Linked DNA regions of Homo sapiens: regions 1 and 2 are each linked to region 3. The links come from fine-mapping of genetic effects on gene expression. A gene starts in region 3. Each other region holds a variant in brackets. All regions are shown on one strand. Distances are between the middles of the regions.

Region 1 (2,750 bases), 34 kb before region 3:
CCCTGGCCAGGCCTCGTCACAGGCAAGGACACAACAGCTCAGCAGGTGAAGCCCTGGGCCTGGTGGGACTCAGGTTTGAATAGGAAAAGAGCAGTGAGGGGCCACAGTGACACCAAGAAGGGAAGGACGGGGGCCCTCTGAGACCCCAGGGAAAGGACTTTTGGGGCAGAATTCCCAAGAACTGAGAGGGTCCATCCCCCATGGGCGTTGGCCCCTTACTCTGCCAGATGCTGCTCGTTGCCTGGCAGGAGCCAGATGTGGTCAACCTGCATTCCCCTGGGAGCCCACTGTCCCCCCCCCCCCCCCGCCTCCGGCCTCCATCCCTTCAGCTCGGGTCTAGCCAGAAACTGACGTCCACCTCAAGTGTCCTCTGGACCTGCAACAGCCTTCTGGGGTCAAATGACCACCCACCCTTTCACCCCCAAGCCTCTGTGAGGTCAGCTTCTGCATCCCCTGGGTAGGGATGGGGGCTTCCTCTCCAGCCGTGCCGGCCCCTAGACCAGCCCTGAGGCGTGGAGGGAATCAAGCAAGTCCCCAGTGAAGCCTCCTGCTCGATCCGCCCCCAGAGCAAAGTCACTCCCAGGGACATGCAGGCCGAGCTGGGTGGACCCAGGCACCAGGAGAGGCTCACGAGAAAGATGCCAACCTCCCGCCAGGTGGGCCTGGATAGGGGCAGATGGGACCCTCTGGGTAGGCCGAGAGCAGGCAGCCGGGGAGTGGGGAAGGCAGGCACAGGAGCGTGGCGTTAGTTCTCTCTTTATATAGACTCTGGTTCTAGAAACTCGCCTGCAGCCGCTGGCTGGACCAGCACACGCTGACGGGGCCGGACTATTTACAGGCCCATTGCGGGCTGTACCTTGGCCACCTCCCGGCACGGTGCTCAGCTGTGACGCCAAAATAAGTTAGGGCCGGCCGGGCGGGGCGGGGCGGGGACGGGGGCTGTACACACAAGTGCTGGGGGCTCGGGGCCTCAATACTGTCGAGGGCCGGGGCTGTAAACATGGCCGGGGCGGCCCTGCCCACCCCTAGTGGTCGGTAACGACCGGAAGCAGAGCAGCCGGGCAGGGCTGGGAGGCTCAGGCGTCCGACAGGCAGCTCTGGATCCGGTCCACCCACTGCTGGGCCGAGGGCACGTCCTGGGCACAGAAGTTGTAAACGCGACGCGTTGTCTTCACCTGGGGAAGGGCGGGTTACTGACTCCGCAGCCCCCACACCGCAGAGCCCCTCCCCTCTCCCAAGCCCCGGCCAAGGCTCACGTCAAAGAAGGCCTTCTCGTCCACAGTCTTAGGGGCACCCATAGTGGGCGTGCCAGGTGCCACAGCCTCCACCTCCGCCAAGTCGATGACACCCTTGCACTCTGTGTCCACACGGTGGTCGTAGTAGCGCAGCTGGAGGAGG[CCA/C]CAGAGTCAGCGGAGCCCCCTCCCCCGTGAGTCCCCCCCACCACCTGATCACTCACCTGGTGCTTGGTCTTGTCCAGCACGAACCAGCGGGCCTTCCAAGGCTTCATGAAGGCCCCCTTCTTGTACAGAGTGCCCTCGTAGGACCTGCATTTCCAGCAGAACCAGGGCCAGGCTGACCGTCATGGCCCAGCCAAGCCCAGGCCCCAGCAGTCGTCCCCCCCTTGCTGTCCCAGCCCAGGAGGTAAGACCAGGCACCCTGTCCCCAGAACTGACCTAAGCCCAGAGCACTGGCCAGGGGGCCACAAAGAAGCCTTTGATGGGGGGCTGCAGGCCCAAGAAGACGACGCCCAGAAAGGAGACAGTGAAGGGCGCCTCACACCCTCCAGACTCCAGGGAGCATCCCCACACCAGAGCCTCAGGGTCTTGGGAAAGCAGCCCCCTACACAGGGCAGGCGCCCTTACGAGGAGAGGGATGGCCAGGCAGGTAGATCTGTAGAAGCAGCCACGGCAGCAGCTGCCTGGGATGGATCCTGCCAGACTCCAGACTCACGGGGGCCCCACCACTGCCCTCTCTCTACTCCTCCCTCAGCCACTGCAGGCTGTGGTCAGCTGTGGTCACCAGTTCGACACCCCAAACCCCTCCCAGTGGTGGTGTATACTTAAGCAAGCTCCTCAAAAGCACCCGCAATCTCCCACCAGAGGACTGCCTGGGACCCCAGAACACCAGCTCAGAGGTGTCCATGTGGCAGTGGGAGGTGCCCTCATACCTGTTCTCACTCTCTGCTGTCTGGAACTGGCTGTACAGGGTGCTGGTGCTGCGGCGGGCAGCCTGACGGGAGCCGGATGTGGTTGAGCCACTACTCTGGTCGCTGTCCAGGCTGAGGCTCAGGGTGGAGCCCACGGGCCCCTCCTGCAGGTACACACCCAGCGAGCGACGGTGGTGGGGTGCGGTGGACACAAGGAGGGAGCTAGGGGTGCCCTGGGAACAGGAGGTTGGGACTTGGGTCAGGGCTGGACAGACTCCACTTTCTCCCAGCAACACGCCCACCGTGGACGCTCACACTGGCCCTCACTCACACGGCCGTCTGGCCGGCCCTCGAGGCGCTGTGCAGCCTTCACCCGGTCCCAGGTGTCCTTCCAGCGCTCAGCGGGTTGGCCCAACTCTGTCTCCAGCCTCTGCAGCTCCTGGGGGAAGAATTAATGGCAAGTTTATTCAAAAGGAAATATCCAGACTAGAGCACGAAAAGACAAAAGGAAAACACAGGAAAGAGACACAACGGAAAGGCCTAACGCGTGTGTGACTGGCCACAGGGGGAGGTGGCAAGAGGGAGGGAAGGAATATGCAAAATG
Region 2 (2,750 bases), 21 kb before region 3:
AGACAGTCTGGATTGGGGGATGCAGGGAGGGTGGAGTGTGGGGGATGAGGAAAAACAGTGACACTGGGAGGGAACAGGACAGAGGAGCATCTGGGATGTTTCCAGGCTGTGGGAAATGGTAAGACAGAGCCGCGTAGAGGCAGCACCCGGAGGACCCTACAGGAAGCTGCAGCAGACGCAGAGGTGGAGAGCGGGCAGGACGTCAGGGCGGGCAGGAGGTCAGGGCACACACCTGGTCTGGGCACACACTTGGTCTGGACAGGCTTCCCGCCCCTGCCCCACGGCACCCGGAGGGCATGCTCCTCATCCCACACCCAAACATCCATGACCAGCGCCGTTTCTGCTCCTCCCTGGCCTGCCTGCCAAACCATAAATGCCACCACGGCCCCCCAAAGTGCCCCTGCCCCACCGTCTGCCCACAAGCACCCTCACCGTGACTGCCCATGTGGGCTGAGGAGAAGCCGCTAAGCGTGTTGCGTCCCGACGCGTCGGCGTAGCGGGGCATGGAGCTGACCACAGCCTGCAGGTACTTCTCCTGCTCCAGGCTACTCGAGTCCGCCTGGGACTGGCCTGGGGGAGGACACGGAGCTGAGGGAGGGGAGGGTGAGATAGGGCAGGGCAGGCACAGGGCAGGACGCAGGAGGTACCTGGAGAAGGTGCGTTCTGGGCCTTGAAGAGGCCGACGACACCTTTGCCATGCAGGCCTCCAGAGCGCAGCAGCACCGCCTTGGACCGCCCGCTGCGCCAGCAGACCACGGGGAAGCGGTTCTGGCGGTAGCAGCGGGACACGCGCTGCAGGGCGTTGTCCTGGACACTCTGGGGCACGATCAGCAGCCCTGGGTAGCTGAGAGGAGGCAGAGGCGTGAAGGTGGCTGGCGACCCCACCCGCCTCCAGGCTCACGCCCCAAGCAGGGCAAGAGGAGCCAGCCCATGGCTCCCAGCAGGAGGCGCTTCCAGCTCAGCCACGGGGCCCCCCAGCCACCCCCCAGCCCTGTGGCCCGTCCCTCTGCCCGGAGTCTCCCCCTCCACATTCCTTACATGACCAGAAGCCGTGGCCCAGGCCCACAGCGGGCAGGGAAGACACCCAGTCACGTGTCCACCACCCGGGCCAGCCCTGGCCGGCCCTCACCTGCGGCAGATGGCATACATGCGGTTGACCGGAGAAATGCGGAAGGGCTCAGACTTGGCCCGGCTCAGGCTGCTGCTCAGGGTGCCCAGACCGAGGCGCTGGTAGTCGCGACAGCAAGCCCTTTCCACCAGGCTGCTCATGGTCATGCGGTCGGAGGGCTTCAGGGCTGAGGACGGGGTCAGCGTGCTGGGCTCCAGCTCCTCCGACACTGCACAGGCCGGGCACACGTGGTCATCAC[G/A]GGGCCACTCCGCCTGCCCTGATCCTCCCTGGCCAATGTCAGCATCCAGAGACCACCCAGGACTCCACCCCCACCCCTCCACCTGAGATCTCGTCCTCCTGGTCCTCAGGGGGCGGCTGGCCCCGGTGCTCCCAGCTGGGGGGGTTGTACTTCTTGCGAGTGACATGCTGCCGCCCGATGGTCTTCTTGGCGTTCTTGACCAGGTTCCGGGACAGGGTTCTGAGGCCCACGAGAGTCAGCAAAGGTGAGAGGAGGAGGGACAAAGATGAGCACAGGGGCCTAGGAGGGTTGGAGCGGGAACACGGCTGAGGCCCAGCTGCCCTGCCTGGGACCCAGATCCATACCTGAGGGAAGGACCCTTGTCCTTGGTGACTCGCGGTGGCCGGCCAGGTGTGTGGGCAGAGCCCAAGGTGAACGCAAAGGTGGCCCTGATGTCCGGCGGGTACCGCAGCTTATGCAGCTGCTTACGGAAGAGCTCGGCGCTGTCAGACCCCACCTCCTCGTCAAAGGCCATTTTCAGCAGCTGTGTCAGTAAAAGCAGCCCTTAGGGGTGTGGGTGGCCCCCCAGCCCCTCCCCCAACTCTGACACTGCCAGGCTCCCCTTCCCCTCGCAGCCATGACAGAGAGAGAAGCAGGCCCCAGGCAAAGGCCTGTATCTGTGTCACACGAAGGCAAGCGCTTGTGTAAACTCGAAATCTCAGTGGCTGTGAGCTGAGGCCTGGGTTTGCAAGGCACACCCAAGACACGGACTTGAGGGCCGGCGCCCCAAGGAAAGGACAAGGACCCAAAGACCGCACATCAAACAGTGGACATCAACTCAAGAGCCACAGTGAGGGCCCCAGACATGCAAGCGTAACAACAGGGCCACTGCTGGAGACTGGCCTAAAAATGGTTCATACAAGAAAGACCGGTTTGCAGGAGAAAGACCAGGGCGGGGGATGAGAGCCCCACCCGCGCACCGCGCCCCACCTGGAATGTGCAGGAGCGCAGCTGGAGCCCGTCCTGCAGGAGCTGGTCCACAGGGGTCTGGACGCTGATGCGCTTCTCCTTGGTCAGCGCAGCCACCGGGAAGGAGCGGACCACCACCTGCTCCCCAACTTAGGACAGGCCAGGCAGAGTCAGAAGCAAGGAAGGTAAGGGGGGGGGGGTCCCAGAATCTCAGGGTACCACAGTTATGGGGAATCCCAAGTGGGTGGGGAAGGAGCAGACAAAGGCCCGTTTCCCACGGGCACCCAGAACCCCCGAGAAAAGGGAGAGGGAGGCAGGGAAAGCCCATCCATCCCAAAGACCTGGGGGAGAGGGGGCGACAGGGCCAGAGAGTCTGCAGGCTCACCCAGGGGGTCCGTGGGCATCCCCGTGAAGATGACCCGGTACGTGGTGAGG
Region 3 (2,750 bases):
CTCCCATGGTGTGTCAGCAGGAGGGTTACGGGGTGAGCGCAGGGGTTGGGGAGACAGAAGGGGAAGCACGAACGGACGCAGAGATCCTCAGCTCACCCAACAGAGAGGCCAGTCTCAGCAGCTTGGAACCCGTGACACCAAGTCCAGGACTCGTGGACAGTGGGTAGGCGAAAGCTCTGTGGAGAACAGTGAACCATCTATCAACATAAACACATGCTCACCTTCAACCAGAATTTCTACTTCCAGGAAGGTGTCCTATAGACACATCTGTGAGCTCAAGGCAGCAACTCATGAAAAGACTGGCAGTCACCTAATTTCATATTAATAGCAGATGAGATGAATCATACAACACCTATATGTTGGAGTAGATCCAACCATAGGAAAGAGTGGGGTCTCTGATGTGAGGACGGTCGGGCTGTGACGCCTGTCACCCCACTGGTCACCAGTGTTGATTCGGCTGATGTGGCTGGCTCAGAGGCAGGTGTCCCCCTCCTTCCCCACTGTTCCCTGTGCGTCCCTCCGAAGCTGCACGCTCCATCGAAGAGGATGGAGGACCGGGCTTCGAGTAGCTGCGCTCCTCTGCCAGGACCTCCAAACAAGCTCTCAGGAAAGAACGGGGTCTCAGTCCTACTGCAAATCTGCACACATGGATGTGTGTGCCTCACATAGCCACACCTAGGTGTGCCCAGGGCAAGTCAGGAGAGGGCTCCCCCCCAGACCAGGGTAGGGGTCCCAAGTGGGTGGCAATGGTGAGGGGAGTCTCACGTTTCACTCGTTTTAAATTTTTCTTTTTCTTTTTTTTTTTTCTTTTTTTGAGACGGAGTCTCGCTCTGTCGCCCAAGCTGGAGTGCAATGCCGCGATGTCGGCTCACTGCAACCTCCGCCGCCTGGATTCAAGCCTCAGCCTTTCCTGCCTCAGCCTCCCGAGTAGCTGAGATTACAGGCACCCGCCACCACGCCCGGCTAATTTTTTGTATTTTTAGTAGAGACGGCCTTTCACCTTGTTAGCCAGGATGGTCTCGATCTCCTGACCTCGTGATCCGCCCGCCTCGGCTTCCCAAACTGCTGGGATTACAGGCGTGAGCCACCGCGCCCGGACACTTTAAATCTGTTACAAAAACCGTGCAATACTTTGGTCCGGGGTTGGAGCGGCCGAGGGTCGGTACAGCCTTTTAGGAGCGCAGCCCCGGGGTCGGCGGCACCGCGTCAGAGGAGAGCGGAATGGCCAGCCCGCTGCGGAATCCCGCGGACTTGCTGGTCAGGCTGGGGGGCCGGGGTCCACCGGGTCAGACCCTGGAGGGTGGGACCGCCCGGACTCGGGAGGTGGTTGACGGGGTGGGCCCCGTCGGGTCCGAGTCCGCCCCAGCCGTGGGATCAGCTCGGACGACGGTTCGCCCCCCAGAACCCCGCTGCAGCGTGGGGAAGTCCGGCCCCCGCAGGCTCGGGGCTGCGTCCCCACCAGAAGGCGCTTGGAGTGAGGCTGGCGGTCCCGCGGTCCCGGGCCGGTCGCCGAGCGCTCCCAGCGGGGACAGGCCCCTCCACCGCTCCCTTCGCCGCAGCCCCCTCCCCGCCCCGAGGGTGGCTGGGCCCGGAGGAGGGGCGCCCCGCCCCGTCCGTGCATCCGGCTCCGCCCCTTGCTGGAAAGGCTACGTATTCAGCCCTGGAGGTGCCATCCCGGGCCGCGACTCCGCTCCAGGCAGGACCCCCAACCCGCCCAGCCCGCTCCGCCTTGCGCCCCGGACCCGCGGCCGACCCCAGACCCGCTGCCCGCTTCGCGCCCGAGGCCTGCGCCCCGACGGACGCCCGTGCCCAGCTTGCCACGCCCACGCCCGGCGCCCCGACCGCGGAGGACTCCCCGAGGTGCCGGCGGAGGGGGTGGCTCGCGGCTCAGGCTGCCCCCGACGTGCCCGGCTCACCGCCCCCTCCCCTGCAGCCCCGCCCGCCATGGCCCGGATCCCGACGGCCGCCCTGGGTTGCATCAGCCTCCTCTGCCTGCAGCTCCCTGGCTCGCTGTCCCGCAGCCTGGGCGGGGACCCGCGACCCGTCAAACCCAGGTGAGTCCAGGTCTTGGGCCAGCCAACCCCTCTGGCCCCCGCAGGGAAGCAGAGTGCCGGGGGCCGCGGGGCCGCCCTCCCTCCACGCCTCCACCTGCTGCTAGGACTCCCCTCCCAAACAAAGGCCCCTACCCCAGGCTCAGGAGCGCCTGAGCAGGGCCAGAGGCCCCTCTTTCTCTGCCTCCCTACACAGGGCAGTTGCTCCTCCCCACACACATGGGCACAGCAGCCCCTCTTCTGGGGGTGTCTGCTGGGGGAGGGGAGGCTGGCGGTATCCCTGGCCGGCCTGTGACCACCCTAAAGGGAGGGCAGAAGCCGAGTCACCCTGAGCCCTGAGAGTGGTGACCCGCAGAGGCTGGGCCGCCGGGGTGCCCTTTGGCCAAGGAGGTGCCGGTTCCCGGGACACGTGACCCGGGCCACTGAGATGGTCCCAGGCCCAAGCCCAGAGGGGACGCGGGCTTCCCCTGGCCGTGCTCCAGGCTGTGTGTGGATGGGGGCTGTGGGCTTCCCCTGGCAGTGACCCAGGCCTGTGTAGAGGCAAAAGTGGGCAGGTGTGAGTTCTCCAAAAGGCTGAGCCATCTGGTTGACATTCTCCATCTGCCTCTGCAGGGAGCCCCCAGCCCGGAGCCCTTCCAGCAGCCTGCAGCCCAGGCACCCCGCACCCCGACCTGTGGTCTGGAAGCTTCACCGGGCCCT

What was found.
Region 1: its variant is fine-mapped to the expression of ADM2 in whole blood (INTERVAL, PIP above 0.99).
Region 2: its variant is fine-mapped to the expression of ADM2 in whole blood (TOPMed, PIP 0.98).

Annotation. Positions count from the first base shown.
Region 1 is chr22:50,446,066-50,448,815 of GRCh38, forward strand. It overlaps SBF1 (SET binding factor 1), which reads right to left. Exons shown (of 41, transcript NM_002972.4): 37 at 2,478-2,585; 38 at 2,168-2,379; 39 at 1,457-1,544; 40 at 1,257-1,388; 41 at 1-1,175. The coding sequence ends at 1,077. Among named protein-coding and RNA genes, the nearest start is that of SBF1, 28 kb to the right of the region's middle. The variant CCA/C (reference allele first, on the strand shown) is at 1,399.
Region 2 is chr22:50,458,823-50,461,572 of GRCh38, forward strand. It overlaps SBF1 (SET binding factor 1), which reads right to left. Exons shown (of 41, transcript NM_002972.4): 22 at 2,701-2,750; 23 at 2,337-2,464; 24 at 1,712-1,890; 25 at 1,450-1,586; 26 at 1,130-1,337; 27 at 648-844; 28 at 433-570. Among named protein-coding and RNA genes, the nearest start is that of SBF1, 15 kb to the right of the region's middle. The variant G/A (reference allele first, on the strand shown) is at 1,368.
Region 3 is chr22:50,479,904-50,482,653 of GRCh38, forward strand. It overlaps ADM2 (adrenomedullin 2), which reads left to right and starts at 1,640. Exons shown (of 3, transcript NM_001253845.2): 1 at 1,640-1,860; 2 at 1,934-2,054; 3 at 2,664-2,750. The coding sequence starts at 1,945. RefSeq lists silencers at 1,427-1,716, 1,767-1,886.